Linked DNA regions of Homo sapiens: all the other regions are reported to be linked to region 2. Evidence: microRNA targets listed by miRTarBase, many of them from high-throughput screens and not tested one by one. Region 2 holds a microRNA gene; each other region holds the end of a gene's coding sequence.

The links. The annotated mature microRNA hsa-miR-4703-3p reads UGUAGUUGUAUUGUAUUGCCAC and lies in region 2 at 2,713-2,734, shown strand. An mRNA with a match to its seed (bases 2 to 7 or 8) in the 3' UTR can be bound and repressed. Matches are read on the target gene's strand: a 7mer-m8 pairs with bases 2 to 8, a 7mer-A1 pairs with bases 2 to 7 and ends in A, and an 8mer does both.
Region 1: miRTarBase lists RBMS3 as a target of hsa-miR-4703-3p. Seed matches in the 3' UTR shown: 7mer-A1 at 735-741.
Region 3: the mRNA of SCP2 is a reported target of hsa-miR-4703-3p. Seed matches in the 3' UTR shown: 7mer-A1 at 803-809.

The regions. Positions count from the first base shown.
Region 1 is chr3:30,003,387-30,007,746 of GRCh38, forward strand. It overlaps RBMS3 (RNA binding motif single stranded interacting protein 3), which reads left to right. Exons shown (of 15, transcript NM_001003793.3): 15 at 470-4,360. The coding sequence ends at 476. Among named protein-coding and RNA genes, the nearest start is that of RBMS3-AS1, 71 kb to the left of the region's middle.
Region 2 is chr13:51,549,925-51,554,284 of GRCh38, forward strand. It overlaps MIR4703 (microRNA 4703), which reads left to right and starts at 2,665; the gene lies at 2,665-2,743. It overlaps LOC124903175 (a long non-coding RNA gene), which reads left to right. Exons shown (of 4, transcript XR_007063804.1): 3 at 1,201-1,264; 4 at 2,159-2,227.
Region 3 is chr1:53,049,987-53,053,986 of GRCh38, forward strand. It overlaps SCP2 (sterol carrier protein 2), which reads left to right. Exons shown (of 16, transcript NM_002979.5): 16 at 623-1,712. The coding sequence ends at 718. Among named protein-coding and RNA genes, the nearest start is that of PODN, 10 kb to the right of the region's middle.

The DNA.
Region 1 (4,360 bases), not on the chromosome of region 2:
AGGGGAAGAGGAAAAGAGAATAAAACTGCATTGGCCTCTTAACTGTCTCACTTATTTCCTCAGGCAATAAGCCTTATGTAAATGTACGTGATGAATACCATGAGATAACATACAACCCAGTTATTTTGGGTGCATAGTAAAGAATCTCATATTTGTTGCTGGAATTAGTGATGATTCCTATAGTAGTTTTGAAGGAACAGAATTACTCAAAGGATCTGTAAGGAGCTATAACATAAGCTATTACCCTTGATTTTTAATGTAAACAAACTCTCTGGCCCAAATCTGTATTTAAATGAAAGTGGCAGAATTTGACAATCTCATAGACTCAGTATGATTTTATGATGCTTTTGTGACTATGTTACATTGAAAGCTTGGTATCTTTTAAAGCTGCCTCATTGGAAAAGGGCACAGAAGGTGATTTCAAAGTTACTTTAATTTAATGACCACTCTTATTCAATTGTTTTCACAGACCATAAACAGGACTGAAGAATGTCTGTCTGAATCTTTGCCTTGAATGAAGAAACTTCATTGAACAAGAAGTTGGCTTCCAGTTTGCACAGACGTCAATGGAATGCATTTTTTTGTTGTTGTTGTTGTTTTTTTTTTAGTGTTATACCTTACCCAATGAAAGCAAAGTTTTTATGTGCTGTGCAAATGGTCTTCATGTGGTCTGACAATTTATTTTTGCCATCATTTTTTTAATTAAAGAAAAAATTTCCAGAAGAGGAAAAAAAAACTACAAAAAACAAAACATTGAAGGTTGATATTTTATGTGGAAGAACATTTGAATTGAATTCAGAATTTTTCTGAAGGTGTAGATACTTTTTTTTTTTTTTTAACAGAAAACCTGATGTCAAGAGGTGGGCAATAGAAATGGAAACAAATTGTCTTCCTCAATAATTAAGCTACTTTCTCTTTTTCCCTTCTTGTTTTAATCTAGTGGGTTTTTTATTTTATTTTTTCTTAGAAATATGTAGGTAAGGTTTATCTTGAATCTTAATTGCCTTAATTTTAAGGACGTCAAAGGCTCTCGAGGCAAGCTGTCAACGTCTTGTTGAAAACAAAAATCAAGAAAGAATTGAAATACTGTGCCGGCTTTCACTGGCACAGAAGTTTAAGACTATGAGTTTTTAGGGTGAAGAAAAAACTGTACAGTTTAAATGAAAATGTTTTTCTTCATTTGAAGAAAATTTGTTGATAAACCATGGCAACTGCAAGAATTGGAAAAATGCTGGGACTTTTCATGAACTTTGTCTTAAGTGTTGACATGAATCATTCTAAAAGGCTAAAACATTTTACAGTAAAGTTATTAAGGTTGGTTTAAAAACAACTGCATTAGAAATAATGCGTGTTTGGGGGGCAGAATGCAGATTTTTTTAATTTACAAAGCGTGATCGCTAGCAAAAGCATTAGTGCTTTTTATCTGCAGTCTTTTTTATGAGCTTTACAAAGTTTTTAGTCAGCTTTGCTTGTCACATTGCAAAACCTAGCTTAAGAGCATTAAAAAAAAAAACTTAAGTAGATAGGAGCTTATGGTCAAAAAGTGCAAAAAAAAAAACAAAAAAAAAGCAATAGATAGAGAAATTGTTGACAATTTCTGTAGTCTTTCCTAGTTGTGATCAAATTCAGCCTATGGATGGCCTATTTTATACCAAAGATGAAGTGACACCCTATTACAGTCCAGAAGATAGAGGTTGTTTTCGTTTCTTTTCTTTTTAAAAAAAAAAAAATTTATTTGACCGACATGGCCGGACCAGTTCTTTCTTTGTTGTTTGTTTAAACTACCTTCCACTGGTGTTTTACATAGTGCAAAAAAAAAAAGAGGGTGGGGGGAGTTGTCTCTCTTTTCTTTAAATGTGTATTCATTGATAGCAGAAGCTTGTACCTGCTGTGTTTAGCAGTTTCAGCATGAAGAGTTCTGGATATGAACTGATTCATAGAGCCAAGTGGCTTTAAATTCTGTGAGCTTTTCTGGTTTCTCACTAGCTGTCTTGAATAGTGAAACCTGTATTGATGGCCACTAGTAAACCAAGATGCTTATTTAACAGGTGGAATATTCTTTATATGAAATTTCAGCTAAAGACACTTTCTGGACCTGGTCTGAAAGGTCATTTGTCAAAAAAGCTTAGGGATATTCTGTGAAATGGTGAGTGGTCTCCTGGAAAGGTCTCATTGTATTTGAACAATAGTCTTCCCTCTAAATTACAACACCTCTGGGTTTTGTCTTTACACCTCTGTCTTTGTCATCACCTACCATGAATAGTCACCTTGGTTTTGCAAATGGGGAGGGGGTATCATCTTTTTGCCTGTTTTCACTGTATTTTTGTATATTGGTGTTGCCGAAAGAACTTTTTCTTTCAGTTTAATTCTTTGAGGCATGTAGGACCAATAAGATTGAGAATTCTATTGGTGGAATTTAGGGAAGTCCTTAAAATGCTAGTTGACAATCAAGGAACAGTATGATTTATATCAATAAGAACCAAAAGAATTAGGTTTGATCAATCATTTAAGCCAAGGAGGAATACTTGCATTTAGAACAATGCAAAACTTTGTCTAAAATGAATTAAATTGACCCACCTGTAAAATATATCTACATTTTTAATTCATGAGATGATATGTGTTCAACCTTTACAGTTTTACCTGAAATTAAGGACAATGGAATAGAATTTGTTAAGTGAACCATTCACTAGATTGCTTTCTGAATGAATCCTTTGAATCAAATAGGTGAAACTCTTTTCAAAAACTAAGTCAGTCACAGGAGCCTGTCTTAGTCCAAAAGAAGCAGGGAAATGTATTTAAGTGTACTATAAAACAGGGTAGGCTTTTTAAAAACTAAAAAGTTTTAAAGGTAAATCATATTCCCATTAGGTCAACATGAGTAATAAGGTTGACTCATGTGAAATTGTCAATATTCTACTATTTCTGTAAACTCTGGTTCTCTTATTTGCAACCCCATGCACTGGAAGCCCAAATCAGAGAATGACTCCATATATTTATGGTCACATTGGAGACAAAAGTGTATCCAAGAAAATGTAGTGTGCGTTATAGAGAAATTCCAACTGGTCACACTCACCATTATGGTTTTTCATGCTTTAGAGAAAATGCTAGATTTATACTGTCTTTTGTTCCATCCTTCAGCTTCCCATGCATTATAAAGGTGGCACTTAAGTTTTTATCTTTGAAAAGTGGGCCCCAAAGTTTTTTGGGGTACAAAAAGACATGTATGAGAACCATATTTTCTGTTTCTCTTTTTCACTCTCTAAACTCTTTTTGTATAAATAAGGATTATCCTGGGCATAATTCATTTGAATATGAAACCAACATACTTTCTTTCATTTTTGTGAAAAAATAACCAAAAACATGTATTAATGTGATACAAAGAAAGTCTCATTCACACAATCAACAATGAGGCTAAGAGGTAGCTACCATGTGGCTAATGAATGTGCCTAGGTAACTTCCTGTTTCTATTCAAAACTGCTGCTTTATTTGTACATTCAGAAATATTTTTTTCAACTATGAAATTTCAATATCAATTTTTTAAGCCAGTTTCTGCAAAAGGAAATGACCTGTCATTTGATGTGTTCATGTGTGTTTTGTGTTTGGATAGTTTATATCATGCCATTCTATAAAATGTATGTTTTCAAACCAAAAAGAAAAAAAATAGAAGGAAAACAACGGCACATACTCAAATTTGCCCTGCTTTGTCTGTTGTCTTACCTAAGACTTGTTTTGAAGAGCCAAGTCTGGGAGAGAAAAAAAAGCATCAACAGGTAAGCAGCATTACATTGTGTGGTAATAAACCAAAATAAGTTTTCAATATATACAGACAACAGAATTCAAATTTAATCAACAAAATATATTGTAGTGATTTGTTTGTTTGTTTGTTTGAGACGGAGTCTCGCTCTGTCGCCCATCCTAACTAGGACTATAATCTTTTTTTTTTTCTTTAAGTTGAAGTTAATTTTCTGTGCATTCTGGTCCACCAGATTTTCAAGCATTTATTTGGATGTTTCCATTTTTCCTTTTGACTTTAATAGCCAAGACTTAGCTTAAACATCAGGAAACAAACTAAAGCCACAATCCAAATGAGAGAAACACTGTCTCGTCTAAACTCTAGTTTCATGGTCAGTGCAACAGTGAGTTTTCTTTTAATAATGGTATGGTATTGTCAAGGGAGGCAAAGTGTTCATGGTAACTTGGAGCTCCCCAATACATGGCCATGTCTTCTAAAGACAACGTAATGAGCCCAAGTGAACTGAAGGTCATACTGGCAGGTGCTGATGACAGTTTGTCCTTGAATGCTGACATGTCTTGAATATTGCAAATGTCATAATACTCTTTTAAAACAGTCCTCTACCTG
Region 2 (4,360 bases):
TAACTGGAACATTTCCAAAGCCTGTCCTACTCAGGATAAATGCACAAAAGAAAAATTAGTAGTTGACGGCAGAATTCTTAAGAGAGCAGTTTTGCATTTTTTACCAAGTAATACTTATTTAACTTCTAGGGCAGTAAAGTAAGAGAAATTGTTACTCTCCACCTCCTGCCATCATGAATTTAGGAAATGTAGAAAGTTATTCTGTTAATAAAGATGTGAACTTGCTGTTGAAGAGAAAATGTTTCTGTTATATCTGTTTCCCTGTGTTTTTGCCACTGCAAGATTCTATCCTGTAATTTATAAAGCACAGAAGTTTATTTTTCACAATTCCAGAGGCTGAGAAGTCCAAAATCAAGGCTCTGGTGGGTTTGGTGTCTGGTAATGCAGAAGTTGCTGCATCTTCTGAAGGGAAGGACAAGAGGGCCAAAGGCTAAGTGAAGCCTCTTTTATGAGTTCCTTAATTCCATTCTTGAGGGAGGAGACTATAGACTAATCATCTTTTAAAGGCACCAACTCTTAATGCCATCACGAGCCATTATGTTTCAACACCCAAATTTTGGAGGGGACACACTCAAACTATAGCAGTCCTTTTGCATTTTGTTCAGGATATCAAAAAGGCCACTTACATTTTATAGTAAATAGTGAAAAAGCTTGCATTCAAGCTTTATCTTGAAAAATGCAATACAAACTGTGAAATCATATTTATTATACTTCATATGTAACAAAATGTAAGCTATAATGACATCTACATACTTCCTGTTAGAACTAAGAATAAATGGATTGGAATTTGGGGATGTAATTTTTCCAATGAAATTTTAAAATAGCCCAAATGACATTCTCCACTTTATATTTTATTTGTACAGCATGATAGTGAAGATGGACATTTTGACAAAAACGTTCAAGGATTTTATGAACTTTTCCCAGGGCCTCTCAATCCTTTAATTTTGAACTCATTATTTTTGGAAACATCTCTGCTGTCATTATCCTCCTTGATGTTTCTCTAGTTGTAGATATGTTCACTTCGACACCTAACAGGCATGCCAGTATTAAAAATGTGTCCAAAACAGAACCCTCGATTCTGTTTTCCTTGCATTTTCTTCCCACCTTCACTCTATCTTCTCTTCTCCTCCAGTTGCTCAAGACAAATATCTAGGAATTATTCTTTATTTCTTTTTTTCTCTCATACACTATATCCACCAGCAAGTCCAGTTGGCTCCACAAGCTTGAGCTCACCATTTCTCACCAGCTCCACCGCTACCTCCAAGTAAGTGCCAACCACCTTCAGCCATTGCCTGAACTACTTTAGTGGCTTCCTAAATCGGCTCCAGCTTCTACTCTATTTCCCTACAATCCACTCTCCATAGAGCTGCCAGAGTGATTTTTAAATGGATTTGTTTGTATTAAGTACTACATTGACAAGGTTCAAAATTTAACACACTATAAAAAGAGATGTTCAGAGAAGTCTTGCGTTCACTCCTGCACTTCTCACCCCAACCCTCCGATGATATCCCTTCCACCCATATATTTTTAAAATCCTCCTAGGGTTTTTAAGGCAAATACAAGCATATTCAAATATATTTTCTCCCACCTTACTGCACAAAAGATAGCCTACCATATACACTGTTCTACATCTTGCTTTCTTTCCCTTGCCATATGTCCTAAAGCTCTTTCCATATGTATCACTACATAGAGAGCTTCCTTATTTGTTTTGACAGCTGCATGTCATACCATTGTTTATTTAACCAGGCCCCTTTTGTTGAATATGGGAGTCAGATCCATTTTTTGCTCTTACAAATAATACAACAATAAATAACCTGATACATGTGTTGTTTCTACAAGTGGATATGCCTCTATGACATAGAATCACAGAAATACGATTGCTAGATTATATATTTTAGTGTATTTGCCAATTTCAAAATGAAAATTTTAGAGGTGAATCTGATGACAGTTCTCCTGCTTAAAAGACAATCAGGATGAAAACCATTAATGAAACCCATAAGGCCCTCCCTAATTTGGCCCTTGTCTAACTCTTCAATACTGAAACTATGCCCAAAAGAGTTAAAGAAACCAATGACTAACAAATTCTTGAGTTTGCAGAATGACAGATTAAAAAAAAAAAAACACCTACTGAAAGGCTGAAATGCCCTCTGCTTATCAGATAAAAGAAATGGCTGAAATCCTTTGGAACCAATATGACCAACTGGAGTCGGTGCAGAAGGAGCTTGCTGACAACGCAGCCTGAATTTCCACCCTATGTTTCATACCAACTCCCCCTGAATTTGCACATGTGATACATGAGATAGCATGAAGAGATAACTGAGCATGCCCAAGGACTTTCCAGACTTCTGCTTTCCTTCCACCAATCACCTGCTAATCTCAGAATCCACCCCCTGAAACTTTTCTAATAAAAATACTGTTTTGAAGGCAGCACAGGGAGACAGATTTGAGCTTGACTTCTGTCTCCTTGGGATTGACTTTCAGTACAAAGCTTTTCTTTTCTCAAGAACATGGTGTCATAGTATGGGCTTCTAGTGCATTGGACAGTGAGCCCCTTTTACTCGATAACAATATCAGCTATATTTTTCTCCCTCTTTCACTGTGGACTAAGCATTCAGCTTCCTCTTATTAATCCCATAAAATCCTATACCATTTGCGAGATTTGCTTTATGCATATTAGCAATACAGTACAAATATAGTGTGTTTGATTTGCACTGTAGTTGTATTGTATTGCCACTCTGTATAAAAATCCAATCATCAGCTAGATACCTACCTAACAAAAAAGTTGCTCCTAGAAGGAAGGAAGCAAAGCTAATGTTTAGTGGATATGACTGAGTGGCTTTTATAAGCAGTCATTTGATAAATAAACGTTTCTAGGTTATGATGACTTTTAGTCTCCTATACTGCTTCAGACTTCAGGGACTCAGATAATGAATGCTGAGATAATGTGGATGTTTTATCATTCTGTAGCATGGTGATCAGGGATTCCAGAAACATAAAGGTAAAGTTCTAACCTTATAAAGAAACGACATGGTCAGTGAAAGAGCACTGGGCTGGAAATTACAAGTCCCAGGTCCCAATGCAGAATCTGCCACTAAGTAAGCTGTGAGGGCTTAGGCAAGCCATTTCACTTTTCTCTGGCTCATTTTATTTGCATGAAAAGAAAGAAAAAGGAATTCATTGTGATTCTGAACCTTTTCACTCCCCAAGGATCCCCTTTATTCCTCCCCCCATTTTCATATGTTGAGAAATTGTGTCTACTAAAATATATTCATTAGTAGTTTGTTCATGTTCTCATGTTCATTGTTTATTATTAATATAGTCATGTTCATTGTTAATTTATCAAAAATATATATATATAATTTCCAATTCAGCTTAGCATTACAAAATTGATTGACATTGATTGAGTTGATGTAATACCCTCCAAAGCAAAGAAACCAGATTAATTTGTCTGGGTGGTTAATCTTAATTCCTAAGAGTTAAGAGGCTGCAGGTTGGGACTGTCTGCATCCAGTTGACTATAAGTTTTTTGTTTTGTTTTGTTTTTACAAGTCTGAGAGTCAATGCTATTTATATTTGTATTTCTATTCAGTCCAGTGCTTGGACAAATGGTACCTCAGAGGGTCCTGTGGGTTCAGCAAAGCAGCTCAGGAGCAGAAATGGGGGTGGGAAAAGAGGAGTCTTAGGGCCCCAAAACCTATTTCATCTACAGCAGCCTCACTTTTTTCTGCTTTAAATGCTAGATTCTGCTTAAGATTTTCTTTTTCTTTTCCTTTTTTTTTGAGACAGAGTCTTGCTCAATTGCCTAGGCTGGAGTGCAGTGATGCTATCTTGGCTCACTACAACTTCCCCTTCTTGGGTTCAAGTGATTCTCCTGCCTCAGTCTCCCGATTAGCTGGGATTACAGATGTGTGCCACCACCCCCAGCTGATTTTTGTATTTTTAATAGAGACAGGTTTTCACAATGTTAGCCAGGCTGATCTCGAACTCCTGGCCTCAAGTGATGTGCCTGCCTCAGCCTCCCAGAGTGCTGGGATTACAGGCGTGAGCCACCACACCTGGCCTTAAGATTTGCTTTGAAGAAAGCGTTTAAACCATAAAAATAATTTGAAAAATATGACTTAATCAAACTCAATTATATAGATGAGAATAATGAGGCATAGAAAAATTAAATGAAACTGGCCCAAGGTTATAGAGCTAATTAATGGCAAAATACTCATTCAGTCAATCAACAAATATTTATTGAACACTGTAGAAATAAAAATTGTAAAGCTAAAGCTTTGATTTGTTCTTAGTTTAAAAACAATCTGTGAGTCACTGTATTGGATTAGAAGCATTAGGATGAAAGAATCTTGTTTTCATA
Region 3 (4,000 bases), not on the chromosome of region 2:
AAGTTTTCCTGGGATTTTGTTACATGGTAAATTTAGCAAACATCATGTGATCTAATCCCAGGCAGTTGTTAAATGGAACAAATTGTGGCTCTGCACTTCAGATTGGTTTGATTTTTCTTGTTGAGCCAAAGAGTAACACAAGCACCTCATTCTCAGCAGGCTCTGTGCCCTCTGTAGGGATAAGTCCTTTATCATTGGTGGCATTTCATTCACATGCATGTTGGATTGAATCCCAAGAGTTTCTGTGTTTTTTGTGTATGCTTTTTCTCTCAGCAGCCTGCTAAAAATTTCAGTTCATATTTCCCACCTACATGGAATGTTTTAAAACATAATCAGTGTAGTATGAACCCACTTTGAGGAGGACAGGTGAAAACAGGCTCAATTTCTATGAGAAATTTGGGAAAGCTGCTCCTTTCTGCTGATCTGCAAAAAGTGTGGCCTTTACAAATTCTTCCTTTTGAAGAATGTGGTTCCAAATCTATTCCAGAAAGCCAAGTTTCATATTTTAGAGAAAGTCATGTGACCTGGATAAATAAATGATCTCAGGGCTAGATAGTGTAGAAACATCAGCAATCTTAAAACAAAAAAACACCAAGTAATGAATTTTCTTTCTTCTTCACAGGCCTTCTTTCAAGGCAAATTGAAAATCACTGGCAACATGGGTCTCGCTATGAAGTTACAAAATCTTCAGCTTCAGCCAGGCAACGCTAAGCTCTGAAGAACTCCCTTTGGCTACTTTTGAAAATCAAGATGAGATATATAGATATATATCCATACATTTTATTGTCAGAATTTAGACTGAAACTACACATTGGCAAATAGCGTGGGATAGATTTGTTTCTTAATGGGTGTGACCAATCCTGTTTTTCCTATGCTCTGGGTGAATAGAGCCTGATGGTATACTACTGCTTTGCGGAATTGCATACAACTGTGCATTACAAAGTTAATATGGTAATTATGGTCTGGGGTAAAATTGAGTTTCAGAATAAAATTAGGAACAGTAAAATCCAAAGAACTATGTAAACAAAAAAGCTTTTGTTTTGCTTACAAAGTATATTTAAGGATTATTCTGCTGAAGATTCAGTTTAAGAGTTTTCCTTGGGAGAACTAAGTAAGAAACACAATGCCAACAGCTGGCCAGTAATTAGTGTTGTGCACTTCATGTCATTAATCAATTTCTCAATAGTTCTTAAAATTAGTGAGATTAAAAATCTAAAAATTTTGCATTTCATGCTATCAGAAACAGTATTTTCTTCCCAAATCAAAATAAAAGAAATATGATCAGAGCTTGAACACAGGCTTATTTTTAAAATAAAAATATTTTTAACATGGGTTTCCTTATTGAAAAATCAGTGTATTAGTCATAAAACACCATCATTAAGAATAATTGAACAATAAAGTTTGCTTTCAGATGCAGTTTTCAAATTATAATCTCATTTCAATTTATAACGTTCTCAGTCCTTTGTTATAATTTTCCTTTTTCATGTAAGTTTAATTATCTGCATTTATCTTTTTTCCTAGTTTTTCTAATACTAATGTTATTTCTTAAAATTCAGTGAGATATAGGATAAAATAATGCTTTGAGAAGAATGTTTAATAGAAAATTAAAATAACTTTTTCTGGCCTCTCTTGTTTTTACTGTGTATGTTCTTGCTCAGGGCTCTCTAGATAATGCAGAATAAAGAGAAACGTTGGGGGATTTATAAACTGAATGTTATCTGGACATAATCACTAGTTTTTGATTGGGGAGGCAGTGTGGTATAATAGAAAGAGCACTTGACTGGGAGCCAAGAGACTTGCTTCTCTTAGGCAGATAACTGCCTGCCTGGACCTGTTTGCTAAACTATTAGGAGATTTAAGTAGATGATCCCAAAGGTCCCTTCTGCTCAGAATCCTGTGAGTTTCCTCAGAGCACAGTAGAATGGTTTGGGAATTACCCAGGCCCCACCTTTCTGTTGTTTACTCATTACTTCACCCATAGGTGGTCAGAGGTAGACAACCAGCTGGTATCATTTGTTTAGGTGTTTGGAGCCCTTGCTGATATAGTCAGGACTATGGATCAGATCTCCTAAGACCATTTAGCTTTGCATGTTTTGTGACCAGCAGAACAGCATTTGGTGATAGGGCAAGAGGATACATTAAGCCAATAGAAGTTGATCCCAAGTTCCATAAAATGAATTCAGAACACAGACCTACTTCCTAATCATAGTAGCTTCTTACTCTGAGAAGAAAAAGACTTCAAGAAAAGAGTTTCAACAAAATGTCTGATTTCTCTGTAGTTTGGATTTGCTGCATCATTCTTTCCTCACTTGTCCCAGATAACAAGAGATACCTGAAATAGGCTTTAGGATGAACCTCAAAAACTAAAAGGAAAAACAAAAACTGGTTCTTACAGTAGGATTATATTCATATATGATGTAATTTGTGTGCATGATAGAAAAGTACTTAGTGATAAAATAGTTTGATTTTTTTCCCCCTTCTGGTATTATAGTTTGGAGGAAGGAGATTAAGTTTTAATTTGAGTTAAAACTGCCATTACTAGTTGTGCTAGTTGAAGAGATCAAGTCTTAGTTGCCCGATTGATAAAGTGGAGATACTAATATCGGCTTCCTAGGATTATGAGAAGCTGGAGAGATAACATGTAAAGTACCTATAGCAGTTGCTAGTTTAGGGTAGTCATTCAGTAAATGTGAGTTCCCTTGCTCTTCTCACCATTAGCAGCACCACTTGCTCCTGTGATATATGATAATGATGTTTGTAGTGTTATGTCCCACTTTTGGAGTCTTTCGTTTGTTCATTTAACGAGTATTTATTGAGTGCCTACCATGTACAGAGCACTATATAGAAGGCATAATCTCACTGGAGATACTAGTCAGCTCTTTTTCTCAAGGTGCTTACATTCTAATGGGTGAGACAGTCAGTCAAAGAGACAATTATTATTGACTATGAAGTGCCCAGCAGGAAATGGTTAGGGTGCTCTGATAAGCAGTCATAGCGAGGGACCTTGATAAAGTAGTTAAAAGAGATGTCTTTGAGGAAGTAATTTTTAAGCTGAGATCTGAAGGTTAAGAAGGAGCAAACCATGCAAAGAACATTGCATGAAAGGGTGGAAACAGGCTTGATTTGTTCCAAAAATTGCAAGGGGGCCAGTGTGAGTGGAATAGTGAGCAGGAAGGATAGGCCCGAGATAAGATCGGATAGATACACAGAAGCTAGTTTTATTGGGATTTGTTCATTACGGTAAGGCTTTTTTTGTATTTCATTCTTAGTAAAGTCAGGAGCTGTTGACAATATAGCTTTACAGATGTTTATTTCTTACTTAGGCTACATATTCATCTTGCCATCATATCCTAGGTCTGGAACCCAGACTAACGGAGTAGCCACTACCTGGAACATCATGACCATCATGGCAGATGAAGAGAAAAAGGTGAAGTGCATGTTGGCTCTTAAAGCTTCTGCCTGAAGTGATACATACCACTTTTGCTCCCATCTCCTTGACCAAAGAAGGTCACATGCCCCACCTAACTTCAGAAACCTAACATGTACCAGAAGGAGAAAGCAGAGTGGGAATATTCGTGAAGAGAACTGATGACCACCAGAAGGGCTGCAAACGGGAATGAAATAATTTAAACTACCGCTGTAGCTGGTGTGTGGAGAATGTACTGGTGGCAGAGGGCTGGAGAATGGCTGTCTGGGTGCAAGAAAATGGCGTCCTGGACTAGGGTGTCAGTAGTAAGAGATAGATGTGGAAAAACAGGCAGAGGTAGAGCTGACAGAACTTGGTAACTGAATGTCAGGGGCAGGGCGGAGCGGGGTGGGGGAGCGGGTGGCAAGAATGACTTCTAGTGACGGGCCAGCCGAATGGTGGATCGTGACTGGACTGGCAGTGACACAAGCAGGTTTCAGGGGCAGTAGTTAAAATAAGTTCTGCTTTTGAAATTTTAACTTGGAGATGCCTGAGAGGTTTGCAAATAGAGATTAAGGAGAGGGTTGGATTTGA